Homo sapiens: one gene and its partner. The protein of the gene in region 1 interacts with the protein of each later gene in a pairwise test. Each region holds a gene or a part of one and is shown on either strand. Other genes may lie near its edges.

Region 1 (7,026 bases):
ACTTCAATTTGAATGGCTTTTATCCAAAAAACAAGCAATAAATGCTGATGAGAATGTGCAACCTCTGCCTCCCAGGTTCAAGGGATTCTCCTGCCTCAGCCTCCCCAGTAGCAGGGATTACAGGTTCTCACCACCATGCCCAGCTAATTTTTGTATTTTTAGTAGATACGGGGTTTAATCATATTGGCCAGGCTGGTCTCGAACTCCTGACCTCAGGTGATCCACCTGCTTTGGCCTCCCAAAGTGCTGGGATTACAGGCGGGAGCCACTGTGCCCAGCCGTGAATATTTTTTTTTAATGCAAAGAAATGATATAATCCTACTTTAACAAAATCTTCACATTTAAAAAAAAGCAACCTAAGATACATGATTCTGATTAAATTAAGACATTTCCATGAAGAAAATAAACATACCAACTAATTGTTTTTTCCTTTGATGATTTTTTCCCAGAGTGCTCATATTTCTGTGTTGTAAATTGTTTATAAAACATTCTTCACAAATTGAAAGCAAAACTTGATGAAGCTTTTGTCTCCACTTCTTTCATGCAATTTGAAATTCAAATGTTTCTCATTTTTTTTGGTTAATAGCAAAGCATATTTTCTGTAGTCAGCTTTAGCTGTACTTTTATATGAAACCGAATGGTTTTTTAATCATTTTCTTAAAGAGATCTCTGAGAAAAAAGTAGAAGCAAAAATGACGGGAAATTCTAAATCCCAGAAATTATTTTTAGAAAATGACTGAAAACTAGATCTGGCGTGGTGGCTCACACCTGTAATCCTACCACTTTGGGAAGCTGAGGCCAGAGGATTACTTGAGCCCAGGAGTTTGAGACCAGCCTGGGGAACACAGTGACACTCTGTCTCTACAAAAATGAAAATTAAAAATTTAGCCAGGCATGGTGGTGTGCACCAGTAGTTTCAGCTACTCAGGAGGCTGAGGTGGGAGGACTGCTTGAGCCCAGGAGATCAAGATTGTGGTGTGCTATGATTGCACCACTGCACTCCTGCCTGGGTGAGACCCTGTCTCAAAAAGAACAAAAGAAAAGAAAAACTGCTTGGTTCCATACACGACTGCAGCTAAAGGTTTCTTGTTATCTTTGCATCTACTTTTTTTAGTATCCAACTTTTTAATAACTTTCCTGAGAATCTTTTGTGTCATAAAAGTATGTGCTTAGAATTTCTCAAGCAAACAAATGAAAGTAGGAATGAAATCTAAACCTAACCATTTGAAAGCAGATCACATCACACTTTATGTAGAAAGTTGCTGGAAATAAACAAATCAAATCCTGACAATGATGCCAGATGTAGTGGCTCACACCTGTAATTCCAGCACTTTGGGAAGCCAGGGCAGGTGGATCGCTTGAGCCCAGGAGTTTGGGACCAGCCTGAGCAACATGGTGAAACCCCATCTCTACAAAATACGAAAAATTAGCTAGGCATGGTGGCACATGCTTGTCATCCCAGCTACTCAGGAGGTTGAGGTTGGGGACTCACCTGAGCCTGGGAAGTCAAGGCTGCATTGAGTCCTGATCGTGATCGCACCACTGCTCTCCAGCCTGGGCAAGAGAGCCAGGCCATCTCTCAAACAAAATAAAACAAAAAGAAAAACCTGACAATGTATCACTGCTTTTGGTCTATAAACCTACAGAGTTTTTTCCCTTGATGACTTAAGGTATATTGTAGCAATATTCAGAGAGCAAATAGTTAAATGAAAAGTTGGCTTAGTTGTGTCTAATTTAATATAAAGCAGTCAACATTTAATATTGCAATTGACTAAAATCCTTCTGAAGTTCTTAGAGAAAGTTTAGAAAGACAGAAGAGAGAGGAATACAGTTCAGTTTTAGGAGTGGTTGGTAAAACTTACACTGCTATGGTTATAAGAAGCATATAGCTGGACTTGAATATCAAATAGCCAGCATAGCACGCCCAGATATTGGCTGTGTAATGCATGAGAAATAAAGAACCGGCATTGACAACTGAGAAGACCACCAGAGCCAGCTCTCCCAGAAGGTCCCAGTTGACTTTCACATAACCCACTGCAAAGGCAGCCACAGCCCCTGAAAAAAAACATTGAAGGCAATCAAACATAATGACTTTGCATGCAGGAAAATATCAACACCCTCTCTTAAAAACCCAGGTCTCGGGTAATTCTGAAAGATAAATATATTGCTTTCACAAAATTGTGTGATCGACCTGAATGTGGATCTATCCTTTTCTCAAGCGTGTCTTCTTTTGGCTTTTCTTTTCACTTGCTATTCTTTCGGTCACTTAGTCACCATACTTTTAATTAGCATCAACTACACGCCAGACACTGTATTCTGCAGAGGGGCCAGAAAGGTTCCTAACCACAGCAGTGTAAGGAGAAATGATACATTAACCTAGTCACTCAGTACAACATGCAGGGATGGAAAAGGATGAAATAAATTCTCTGGGAATACACTGGCCTCTCTATTTGCCTTTCTTTTCTCAGTTTTTGCTGTAAGTCTTTTTCAGTGATGAGTATCAGATGTGTTACATTGAAAGTTTTAGTCTTTTTTCTTGCCCTACCCAGTTTTAGTCTTTATTATGAACCTTTAGTAATCTTAGTCTTATTTCCAATCTCCACTCTAAAGTCTTCAACATCTGACATAATTTACTTGAGAAGCTTTGGGTGAAAATATCTATATAGACTTACAGAGTTCAAGAAATTGAAATAATTGACAGTAATTAGGGTTAGCACTTTTGTGTGGTTCTCTTTAACAAAGGTAAAAGGTATTTAGGGCTGGGGACAGTGGCGCACTCCTGTAATCCCAGCACTTTGGGAGGCTGAAGGGGGTGGATCACTTGAGGTCAGGAGTTAGAGACCAGCCTGGCCAACATGGTGAAACTCCAGCTCTACTAAAAATACAAAAATTAGCCAGCATGGTGGCGGGCACCTGCAATCCCAGCTACTCAGGAGGCTGAGGCAGGAGAATCACTTGAACCCTGGAGGCAGAGTTTGCAATGAGCTGAAATCATGCCACTGCAATCCAGCCTGGGTGACAGAGTAAGACTCTGTCTAAAATAAATAAATAAACAAAAGGTATTTAGATTTCAAATTACTACATTGACATATGACTAACTTTCCCACATGTGATCATGACCACAGAGGAAAAAAAAAATAACTATTTTTCCCCCCATGGATTTGGAATGTAGGAGCAATAATTTCAGTGAAGCAATTCTGGCACAGTCCTGGTTTCCAGGAGTTAAACTGAAGCTTCCCAAAAGGGAGATAATAATAAAATAGAGGTCACACGGGTTTTCTAAAACTTTTTGTAAATGAGGGTGGGGCGAATTCTCACTTCCTAAAAAATATCTTCAAAGTCTCATTTGACATTTAAGCTTCCAGTTACTAGGAAATAAACATTTATTGTAGATTAAACTTCAAAGACAGATTTCCCTCTGATATTAAAATCCTGACTTTCACATCTCTTCCAGCCCTCATTTAAATACCATGAGAAAGCTGCTTTTGAAAGTTGTTGGTGTATAGCCTAGAATTGTTATAGGTGCATGCTAGCTAGTTCAAATCCTGTATTAACAAAACCCTCAGTGAGAATTTGGAATCCTTAATTTATTTTCTAAAATAATGAAAACATATACACATATATGTATATATTTTGATATTAAAAATAATCCTAAAAGAACAGGGCATGTTATTAACCTTTGTGCTAATGATGAATTGGAATCTTAGGGATTCAACTAGAATTTCATTGTTTGGTGCTAATCCCTGAGCTCCTAAGAGTTACTTCTTGTGGCTGGGCGTGGTGGCTCACGCCTGTAATCCCAGCACTTTTGGAGGCTGAGGCGGGTAGATCATGAGGTCAAGAGATTGAGACCATCCTGGGCAACATGGTGAAACCCCGTCTCTACTAAAAATACAAAAAAATTTAGCTGGGCATGGTGGCACGTGCCTGTAGTCCCAGCTACTCAGGAGGCTGAGGCAGGAGAATAGCTTGAACCTGGGAGGCAGAGGTTGCAGTGAGCTGAGATCGCACCACTGCATTCCAGCTTGGTGACAGAGTGAGGCTCTGTCTCAAAAAATAAAAAAGTTACTTGTAACTACAACACAATAGAAAGTCACAGTATTCTTATTTTTCCAGTGACTTTCATTCTTTTTATTTTTATTTTTATTTTTTTGAGAGGAGTCTCGCTCTGTCATCCAGGCTGGAGTGCAGTGGCACGATCTAGGCTCACTGCAAGCTCAGCCTCCCAGGTTCATGCCATTCTCCTGCCTCAGCCTCCCAAGTAGCTGGGACTACAGGCATCCGCCACCATGACCGGCTAATTTCTTTGTATTTTTAGTAGAGATGGGGTTTCACCGTGTTAGCCAGGATGGTCTCCATCTCCTGTCCTCGTGATTCGCCAGCCTCGGCCTCCCAAAGTGCTGGGACTACAGGTGCCCGCCACCACGCCTACCTATTTTATTTTTTGTATTTTTAGTAGAGACGGGGTTTCACTGCATTAGCCAGGATGGTCTCGACCTCCTGAAATCGTGATCCACGCGTCTCAGCTTCCCAAAGTGCTGGGATTACAGGCATAAGCCACCATGCCCGGCCGTGACTTTCATTCTTGACTGAAAAAAGTTATGCTTCCTTCTGAACAGAGCTAATTCGCTGCCATGAAGTTCGGTACCTGGAGGAATGGACTTAAGCGGGTAAAGCCAACAAAGGAAGATTAAGTGACATTTGCTTACCTCCAAAGGTTGCAATAGCTTCTACGGCCCCATTATAGATGGAAGAATCTTGGGATGGCGCCTTGTAATCCCACAGGATTTGAACATAGTTCAAAACCTGGTTAAAACCTGCTGTGGCGAAAGCCCACCATAGAGACCAGTAGAAAAGACGTTTTGAGGAGTAGCACTCCTTCAAATCTTGGAACCACTGCACAAAAACGTCCACAGTCACATTGCTTGGTTTCAGGCTGTTCAGCTGGCCCTTATTCAGCTTCCCTGAAGTGCTGAGTATTTCTGATGTGGGTTTCTGCTCTTCACAGCCTGGTGCTTCACCTTCGTGAGTTTCCTCTAATACTGGATTCACGCTTGATGACTTCTTTATTTCTCTGCTGGGTTTTGCATGAAAAAACATGCTTTTCTTGGGCATTGGTAGGAAAAGTGAGAAAAGGAAAGCCACGGAGACAGAGGCCAAGGATATGACGTTGAGGTAAAAGTACGACATGTTCGCCAGGGATACCAAGAGTTGAGCCAGCACCGACCCTGCTGTGTAGGCGGCCAGCGTGACGCTCCTGCAGTAGCCGCTCACTCTCTGGTAGTGCTCGGGGCTGACCACGCTGTATATGTAGGCGTAGTAGGCCACCTCGGCGGCGGTGACCATCCCATAGAAGAACTCTACAACCTGCATGGTCTTCACTCCTTGGCCAAACAACAGCAGCAGCCAGGTAATGATGAAACTGATACCTTGCAAGATGATGACTGGCTTGTAGCGGACATAATCGGTGAGGACAAACACAGGCAGCAGCAGCACCAGGTAGGAGTATGTCCAAACGGGGAAGATCTCATTTGTTATCTGCAAAGTTGGTAAATTGCATGACCACGAAGCACCGGTACTTTACTAAGGTACCTGTGGTTTGTATCTCAAATTCTGCCTCCAATTGGAAATTATTCGCATTACGGAGAAACATAATGAGAAAACTGATTTTCAAGGAAATCACAAGAAAAGATAGTCTCCTTTCCCATTGGTAAAAACCAATGTACACACTTAGATAAACCCCGGCAGAAAAATATATTGGCTTATTGTGCAATCTGAATTATGTATTAAGTTTAGATAGTATGTACAGTTGAGTAGATGAGTTAAAAAGTTTTTGGACACTTCTAAGATTTTCCGATTCTTTTTTTTTGAGGTGGAGTCTTGCTCAGCTGCCCAGGCTGGAGTGCAGTGGCCCGATCTTCGCTGACTGCAACCACCATCTCCCAGGTTCAAGCCATTCTCCCATCTCAGCCTCCTGAGTAGCTGGGATTACAGGCACCCGCCATCATGCCTGGCTAATTTTTGTATTTTAGAAGAGACGGGGTTTCACCATGTTGATCAGGTTGATCTTGAACTCCTGAACTTAGGTGATCCGCCCACCTCGGCCTCCCAAAGTGCTGGGATTATAGGCGTGAGCCACCGTGCCCGGCCCAAGATTCTTAAAAAATATAATTTCCTTCTTGTTTGAATATTAACATTAGACAAGTAGACCACAATGTTAAAAGAATCCAGGCCAGGCATGGTGGCTCACACCTGTAATCCCAGCACCTTGGGAGGCCGAGGCAGGCAGATCACGAGGTCAGGAGTTCGAGACCAGCCTGGCCAACATGATGAAACCCCGTCTACAACTAAAAACACAAAAATTAGCCATGAATGGTGGCAGACACCTGTAATCCCAGCTACTTGGGAGGCTGAGGCAGGAGAATCGCTTGAACCCAGGAGGCAGAGGTTGCAGAGAGCCGAGACTGTGCCACTGTACTCCAGCCTGGGCAACAGAGCAAGACTCCATCTGAACAACAACAACAAAAAGAATCCAACAGCCTTTATTTTCATGTGATCTATCACTACATCAAATATTTCAGCCCTTCCAACATCTGGAAAGATATGGGAAAATAGGGAAAGAGTAAATAACTTTGCCACATTATAGAGTGGAAGCAAATAATGTATCTCATTTTCCTTCATGGGCAAATTTGCTAGGTTCCCAACCTTCCCCCTGCTCCCCCTAACAATTCTGCTGATTTGTTTATGGCTCAATTTAATATGGATCATCTCACAGATTTAGTCAGAAATGCATGGGATCTCAATTTTCACAGTTGGAAGGACTGGAGTTGCTGATCTGTAGGGATGGGTGAGTGCCGCAGCCTCTCAAATCACTGAACGTACCCACCTTGACACCTGGATCACTGAGGTTGCTGGAGAAAGCAGGAGGCCACAGAGCAAAGACCACACAACTGAGCTGCTCCTTGGAGGGAAGGTCTGTTAACTGGTCCACAGTGGCTCGAGAAGCAGAACCCAGTGGATTCATTG
Region 2 (7,026 bases), on another chromosome or scaffold:
GCAGCTCTTGTAAGTTCCCGTCATGAATGCTGTGGACTTATCACCCTGGCGTTTAGTGCTTCTTTCTTTGGAATCCAAGCCAGCCCCATCTCCAGGCAGTCTGGAGCAGCCCCTTGAGGGAACTCCCCTGCCACTGCTTTTGAGGTGACTCCAGCATGGGTTTGGCCAGACAGAACCGGTACACCTTCCTCCAACATCCTACTCCCACCTCTGCCAACTGGGCAAGCTGCCCTCTACCTACACAGCCAGCCTCTGCTGCCTTTTTCGGCTCCCTATAACGACCACAAAAAAAAAAAAAAAAAAAACTCATATTCAAATTGCTATTCAAACTATATTTTTCCTTTTACAGATATGCCCATGAATTTGCTCCAATACAAATGTTTGTCTGTTTCACTATAAATAAAATTGCAATTGTGAAATGAAAACCAATTCCATCACCAGAGCTGTTATTCCAGTGACAGGGAACATGTAACCTCTCCCCTCCCAGAAGAATTCAGTCCTAGATTAGACGGGGCAGAGCAAGGTGCAGGTGCAGGGTAACAGTGGTGAGGCAGGGGCCCAGGGCAGAATGTCAGTGCCCAAGCTCAGTGCAGAGGGCCTTCCCACAGAATGGCACCCTGGCAAGAGGCATCAGGGCCAGGCATGGTGATACAGGGGTCCCCAAGAAAGGGCAGCCTGACACAGGAGTCAGGGTCTGTAGGGTGAGGGAGACAGACATACAAGACAAGAAGGAACCCTGCCAGGGTCGGAGCCCAGGTGGGGAGAGGCATGCATTCACTTGGGTAACAGTGGGCGGTGGACACCAGAGATTAATTACAAAAGGGTGATCACAGAAATAAACATATTGAGAGTAACGGAAGCCAGTCTTCTCACTTTCAACAAAGACACTTAGAAAGATGCCTCAGCCTGGCATGGTGGCTCGGCCTGCAACCCTAACACTCTGGAGGCCGGGGTGGGAGGATCTCTTGTATACAGGAGTTCAAGGCTACAGTGAGCTGAGATCATGCCATGGGACTCCAGCCTGGGCGACAGGGTGAGACCTTGTCTCAAAAAAAAAAGGGGGACAAAAGAAAAAAGGCCAGGTTCGGTGTCTCATGCCAATAATCCCAGCACTTTGGGAGGCCAAGGCAGGTGAATCGCTTGAGCCCAGGAGTTCAAGACCAGCCTTGGCAACATGGTGAAACCCTGTCTCTACAAAAAATATGAAAAATTAGCCACTTTCATAACCTGGTGAAGGAAGGAAGGGAAGAAGGGAGGAAGGGAGGGAGGAAGGAAGGAAGGAAGGCAGGCAGGCAGGCGTCTCGGAGAGAAGCAGAATGAATCTTGTGGTGTTGGCTTCAATTGGAGATCTGTGGTTTCCACAGATAGGCAGAGAAATACAGACATAAACAAAGAAGCACGCTCCCCAGGCTGGCCTGGCTGGTCCCTGTGAGCAGAGGGGCCCCGCATGACCTGGAGGCCCGCCTGCGCAGCCCCCGCAGGCCCCTGTTCCCTGCACCAGCCCCAGCCGTCCACTCTCCAGGGAACGGCCCGGCCACGGCACCGGGATGGGAGAGGTGACTGGAGCGCAACGGAGGAGTCGGCAGTGACCGCCAGGTGGCGCCCGCAGATCTGCCGGGAAGGCCTAGTCCAAGGACTGCGCGGGCGCCCCAAGACCAGATCCCTCAGTGGCGCCTCTGGCACCTACCCCAAGGGATCAGCGAACATCCCCAAATCCCAGTCCCACACCAGCGGATGAGACACAATGAGAACACAGCACTGCCTCTCAGAAATCCCTACCAAGTATCAGACATGCCAGTAGGCGTCCCTTCTGCGAAATCACTGGCCTCTGACACCCACAAATGACAGCCATGAAAGTCAAGGGAAGACTGGGAAACTCCTCCAGACAGGAGGCTAGAGGCCGGGAAATGCAATGCATGATTCCGAACTGGGTCCTTTCCCTGTTAAGGACATTACTGCGAAACGTGGGGAACCTGCATGGGGTCTGAGGATCAGATCGTGGTAACGTACTTGACGCCTGCATTAGATCTCGGCTCACTGCAACCTCGACTTCCTGGGCTCAAGCGATACTCCCACCTGAGCCTCCTGAGCATCTGGGACTACAGGCCTGCACCACCACACTCGACTAATTTTTTTTTAGTTTTAGTAGACACACGGTTTCACTATGTTGCCAGTGAACTCCTGAGCTCAAGCGATCCGCCAGCCTCGGCCTCCCAAAGTGCTGGGATTAAAGGCGTGAGCCACTGTGCCCGGCCCCCAAGATTCTTTTGAATACCAAAGTATCTCGGAATGAGGGGGTTTGGGTTGACAACTTCCAAATGGTTCAGGAAACAAAATCAGTTATCGGTATTGACTGTATATAACTTTTCTGCACATTTGTGTTTGTTTCGAAATTTTAAAAATAGATTAATAAAGACGAAATGTTATAGTGTATCTAAAGTGTGCCTGGCACACAATAAATCAGATCCCCCCCCCTCCCCCTTCCAGCTTACAGGTCTCCTCCGCCTGCCGCACAGTAGGGACAACTCTCCATTTAGAGCTTGGAAGCCGCGACCCGCCAGTCGCCTGAGGGTGTCTGCGCATGCGCGTGGTTTCTGACCCGCCCAGTGATGCCGCCTACCAGCGCCTGCGTGATGAGGCAAAAGTGGGGGGGGGGAGTGTGGGGAGTAGGGGGGGTGGAGGGGTCTAGGGGCTCATGCGCAGCGTGTTCACTGCAGCGCAGCTTCTGGCAGCCTTTGCGCAGGGAGTAGGGGGTTCAAATCCAGCTCTCTTTGTGGTGCCTCTGCCCTGGCCACTACCCAGCACTATAACCGAAGGAGCTATACTCCAGCCTGATCCACTCTGGAGAAGGAAATAGGAATGGGCCAAATTCTCTTAGATGAATCACAAAATTATCTTTCAAAAGCAAGGAAAATCTACAGACACTGCTAAGGACTTTTTGATAATTTCGCCTTATACAAATTACACTTCAATAAATCTGACTTTTAAAACCATATTTTAAAAAGAAAAAGAGATTCCAAGACATTATTTAGCATTATAGGGAATACACAAAACAACTCAGGAATGGGAGGTGAGTGAAGGCAGAAGGGTGAACTTCAGGAAAACTGAAGGCAGCTTTGTAAGGTTAACAAAAACAACTGGTGCTTGAAAAAATAATTACATCTATTACATGTATAAGCACAATAAAAACTGTCTGAGCCAGGCGCAGTGCAGTAATCCCAGCACTTTCGGAGACTGACGCGGGAAGATCGTTTGAGCCCAGGAGTTCGAGACCAGGCGGGGCAACATAGCAAGACCCAATCTCTACCAAAAAATTAAAAATTAGTCAGGTGTGGTGGTGCACGCCTGTGGTCCGTGTGGCCCCAGCTACTCAGGAGGCTGAGGCGGGGAGGGAGGGATCACTTGAGCCCGAAAGGTTGAGGCTGCTGTGAGTTATGATGGCACCACCACACTACAGCCTTGGCAACAGAGTGAGACCCTGTCTCTAAAAAAAAAAAAGTTTTAAAGTATAAATTTGCAAATATGTATCAATGTTAATCCAAGACCCACGTATAAGTGTTAAAATGTTCTAGAATCATGCAGTGTAAGATTTAATATGAATCTAAATGTAATAATGCAAATATTAATTTTTAGAACAAAAGTGAATCTCTGAATTAATTGATGGCATGACAACGTGCACACCCCGTGCTAGTCCCTGCCAGCAGTAGAGCAGGCAAACCCAGGAACCACCAACTCAGGTCACCCTGAGTCCCTGAACACAGAGGACAGGGTCTTCCAACTCAGGAAGCTCCAGACCCTGAACAGCCCCAGATGCCACTCTCGGCCAGGAACCCTACCGGCAAGGGCGGAGAAGCGGGCAGCTCTCCAGGCCACCAGCCCCAGTCCTTGGCTGCTGCCCCCACGAGAGCCCCACTGGAGGCCCTGCCCGCACATGCGCACTTCACAAGCGCGCTTCTGAGTCACAGGATTCTGGGGTAGGTCCTGTGAAGCAGAGAGTCGTCCTCCTAAACTAATACTTGGGGACCATTCCCAAGCCTGGTCCATGGCAGGGACTCACTAAGCAACGGCTCTGAGGAAAAGGGTGTGGGGGCGGAGGGGGTGCTCTCTAAGAAGATGACCACAGAGGCAAACCCTGCAATATCCTCCTCTCGCTTCAGTCCCCTAGAGGAAAAAGGAGGTGGCCACTCTTTACAGCAGAAAGTGAAGGATAATTTAGAAAAAGTTGAATCTCAAAGGGCACTCGGCCCGTAAGCCCAGAAGGCAACACACGCAGAGTCCTTCATCTGCAAAGCTCGGATTGAGAGGAAGGGCCTCCTGGCGCCTGCGCAGTGCATGTGGCTCGTGTGGCCACTCAGCCCACACCAGCTCTGGGGCGCCTGCGCAGTGCGTGCAGCTCGCAGGGACCCTGAGCCAGCGCCAGTCCTAGGGCGCCTGCACAGTGTATGCGGTTTGCATAGACTCTGAGCCCGCGCCAGTCCTGGAGCGCCTGCGCAGTGTGTGCGGTATGCGTGGACTCTGAGCCCGTGCCAGTCCTGGGGCACCTGTGCAGTGCGTGCGGCTTGCATGGACTTTGACCCCGCGCGAGTCCTGGAGCACCTGCGCAGTGCATGCAGTTTGCACGGACCTTGAGCCCGGGCCAGTCCTGCGACGCCTGCGTAGTAGTGCCGTTCGCATGGACCCTCAGCCCCCGCCAGTCCTGGGGCACCTACGCAGTACACCTCCCCTGCACCCGCAGAGCTGCAGAGCCGGTGCTCACCAAAGGCGTCTTTGTTCCCCTCTATAGCTGAAGAAAGTCCTGGACCACCTACTGAATGAACTAGGCGCTCTCAACCATGCGTCCCCGTGACCAGCTTGAAGAGAAGGGAGCGATCCCAGGAAAATTCCAACCACGCCAACACCACGGACTTGGTGTCCTTACCAGGCATCCCACCCCCACCGCAGCGGACAGCTGAGATCGCCTCCCAGGACCTTGCTAGGCTTAACTGGCCCAAGGACTTCTGATACTTCAGACCTCCTAAGGCCTCACGCGGGGGGAGGGGGGAGACCAGTGCGGGGACCAGTGCGGCCTAGACTGAGTGCTGAGATCGGGGTGCTGCCTCCCTAACTTCTGCTAAGACGAAAGCTTCAGAAACATCCCAACGGAGGTTATAATCTAAGTACCTGAGCGCGGCCCCATCCCTGAGGGCACTGTTTTCCCAATTCGACTTTCTGCTGCTTGTCATGAGTCTTTCCCACTTGAATCCTCAAATCAGAGAGGCTGTGATGAAGTAGCCTCTGACGATGGTGAAGGAGCAGCATTTGACCCTACTGAAGACCAGCGCGTTCCTTACAGCTTTTCACAGACTCTCACCACAAACCCAGTGACCAGGCCAAACATCTCTCTTACCGATTACAGGGTGGGTGTACTCTGCTGGGATAATAATTATGTTATCCTTCTGAACCTGGCTAACAACAAGTGTTAACAATCATAGGGAAATGGGTTTAGGAAAGCTAACTGGGTTGAGGTTAGAGAGGCCATAAGGTTGTATGAGGCAGCACAGGATGTGGCCACAGGTCCTGAGTCACAGAGCAAGACCCGGCCTCTAAAAACAAATTTTTCTATTTTGGAGGGTGGAGGATAGGGGGTGGGAGGGAGACAATCAGGAAAAATAACTAATGAATACTAGACTTAATAACTGGGTGACGAAATAATCTGTACAACAAACACCCATGACACAAGTTTACCTATATAACAAACCCGCACATGTATCCCTGAACTTAAAAGTTAAAAAAAAAAAAAAAAATTGTCGGCCAGGTGTGGTGGCTCACAGCTGTAATCTCCGCACTTTGGGAGGCTGAGGCAGGTGGATCACCTTAGGTCAGGAGTTCGAGACCAGCCAGGCCAACATGGTGAAACCCTCTTTCTACTAAAAAAAATACAAAAATTAGCTAGGTGTGGTGGTGCATGCATGTAATCCCAGCTACTCGGGAGGCTAAGGCAGGAGAATCGCTTGAACCCAGGAGGCAGAGGTTGCAGTGAGCCGAGATAGCGCCACTGCACTCCAGCCTCGGCAAAAGAGCAAAACTCTGTCTCAAAAAATAATAATAATAATAATAATAACAACAACAAAAGGAACTCAACAACAAAAAACAACTGGATTTTAAAAGGGGGCAAAAGATTTGACTAGACATGTCTCCAAAGATAAACAGATGGCCATAAGCATCTGAAAAGATACTCAACATCACTATTAGGGAAATGCAAATCAAAACTAAAATGAGACACCACCTTACGTCCATTAGAATGGTTAGTATTACAAAAAAAAAAAAAGGCCGGGGGTGGTGGCTCACGCCTGTAATCCCAGTACTTTGGGAGGCCCAGGCAGGTGGATCACCTGAGGTCAGGAGTTCGAGACCAGCCTCGCCAACATGGCAAAACCCCGTCTCTACTAAAAATACAAAAATTAGCCCAGCATGGTGGCATGCACCTGTAATCCCAGCTACCTGGAAGGCTGAGACAGAAGAATTGCTTGAACCTGGGAGGCGGAGGTTGCAGTGAGCCAAGATTGAGCCACTGCACTCCAGCCTGGGTGACAGAGAGAGACTCCCTCTCAAAAAAATAAAAATTAGCTGGGCGCAGTGGCTCAAACCTGTAATCCCAGCTACCTGGAAGGCTGAGACAGAAGAATTGCTTGAACCTGGGAGGCGGAGGTTGCAGTGAGCCAAGATTGAGCCACTGCACTCCAGCCTGGGTGACAGAGAGAGACTCCCTCTCAAAAAAATAAAAATTAGCTGGGTGCAGTGGCTCACACCTGTAATCCCAGCACTTTGGGAGGCCAAGGTGGGCAGATCACCGGAGATCAGGAGTTCGAGACCAGCCTGGCCAACATGGTGAAACCTCGTCTCTACTAAAAATACAAAAATTAGCCGGGCATAGTGGCGGGCACCTGTAATCCCAGCTACTTGGGAAGCTGAGGCAGGAGAATCTCTTGAACTCGGGGGGCAGAGGTTGCAGTGAGCTGAGATTGCGCCATTGCACTCCAGCCTGGG

The links. The genes of interacting proteins can lie anywhere in the genome.
Region 2: the proteins of SLC19A3 (region 1) and GET1 interact in binary tests that used the Homo sapiens proteins (3 or more experiments, as listed by UniProt).

What each region holds. Positions count from the first base shown.
Region 1 is NC_000002.12:227,694,027-227,701,052, forward strand, and holds part of SLC19A3 (thiamine transporter 2), read right to left. Parts: exon of another isoform or gene 7,025-7,026; coding exon of another isoform or gene 6,887-7,024; intron 5,539-6,886; coding exon 4,710-5,538; intron 2,056-4,709; coding exon 1,863-2,055; intron 1-1,862. UniProt on the Homo sapiens protein: Mediates high affinity thiamine uptake, probably via a proton anti-port mechanism. Has no folate transport activity. Mediates H(+)-dependent pyridoxine transport.
Region 2 is NC_000021.9:39,383,322-39,390,347, reverse strand, and holds part of GET1 (guided entry of tail-anchored proteins factor 1), read right to left. Parts: intron 2,568-7,026; exon of another isoform or gene 2,493-2,567; intron 1-2,492. UniProt on the Homo sapiens protein: Required for the post-translational delivery of tail-anchored (TA) proteins to the endoplasmic reticulum (ER).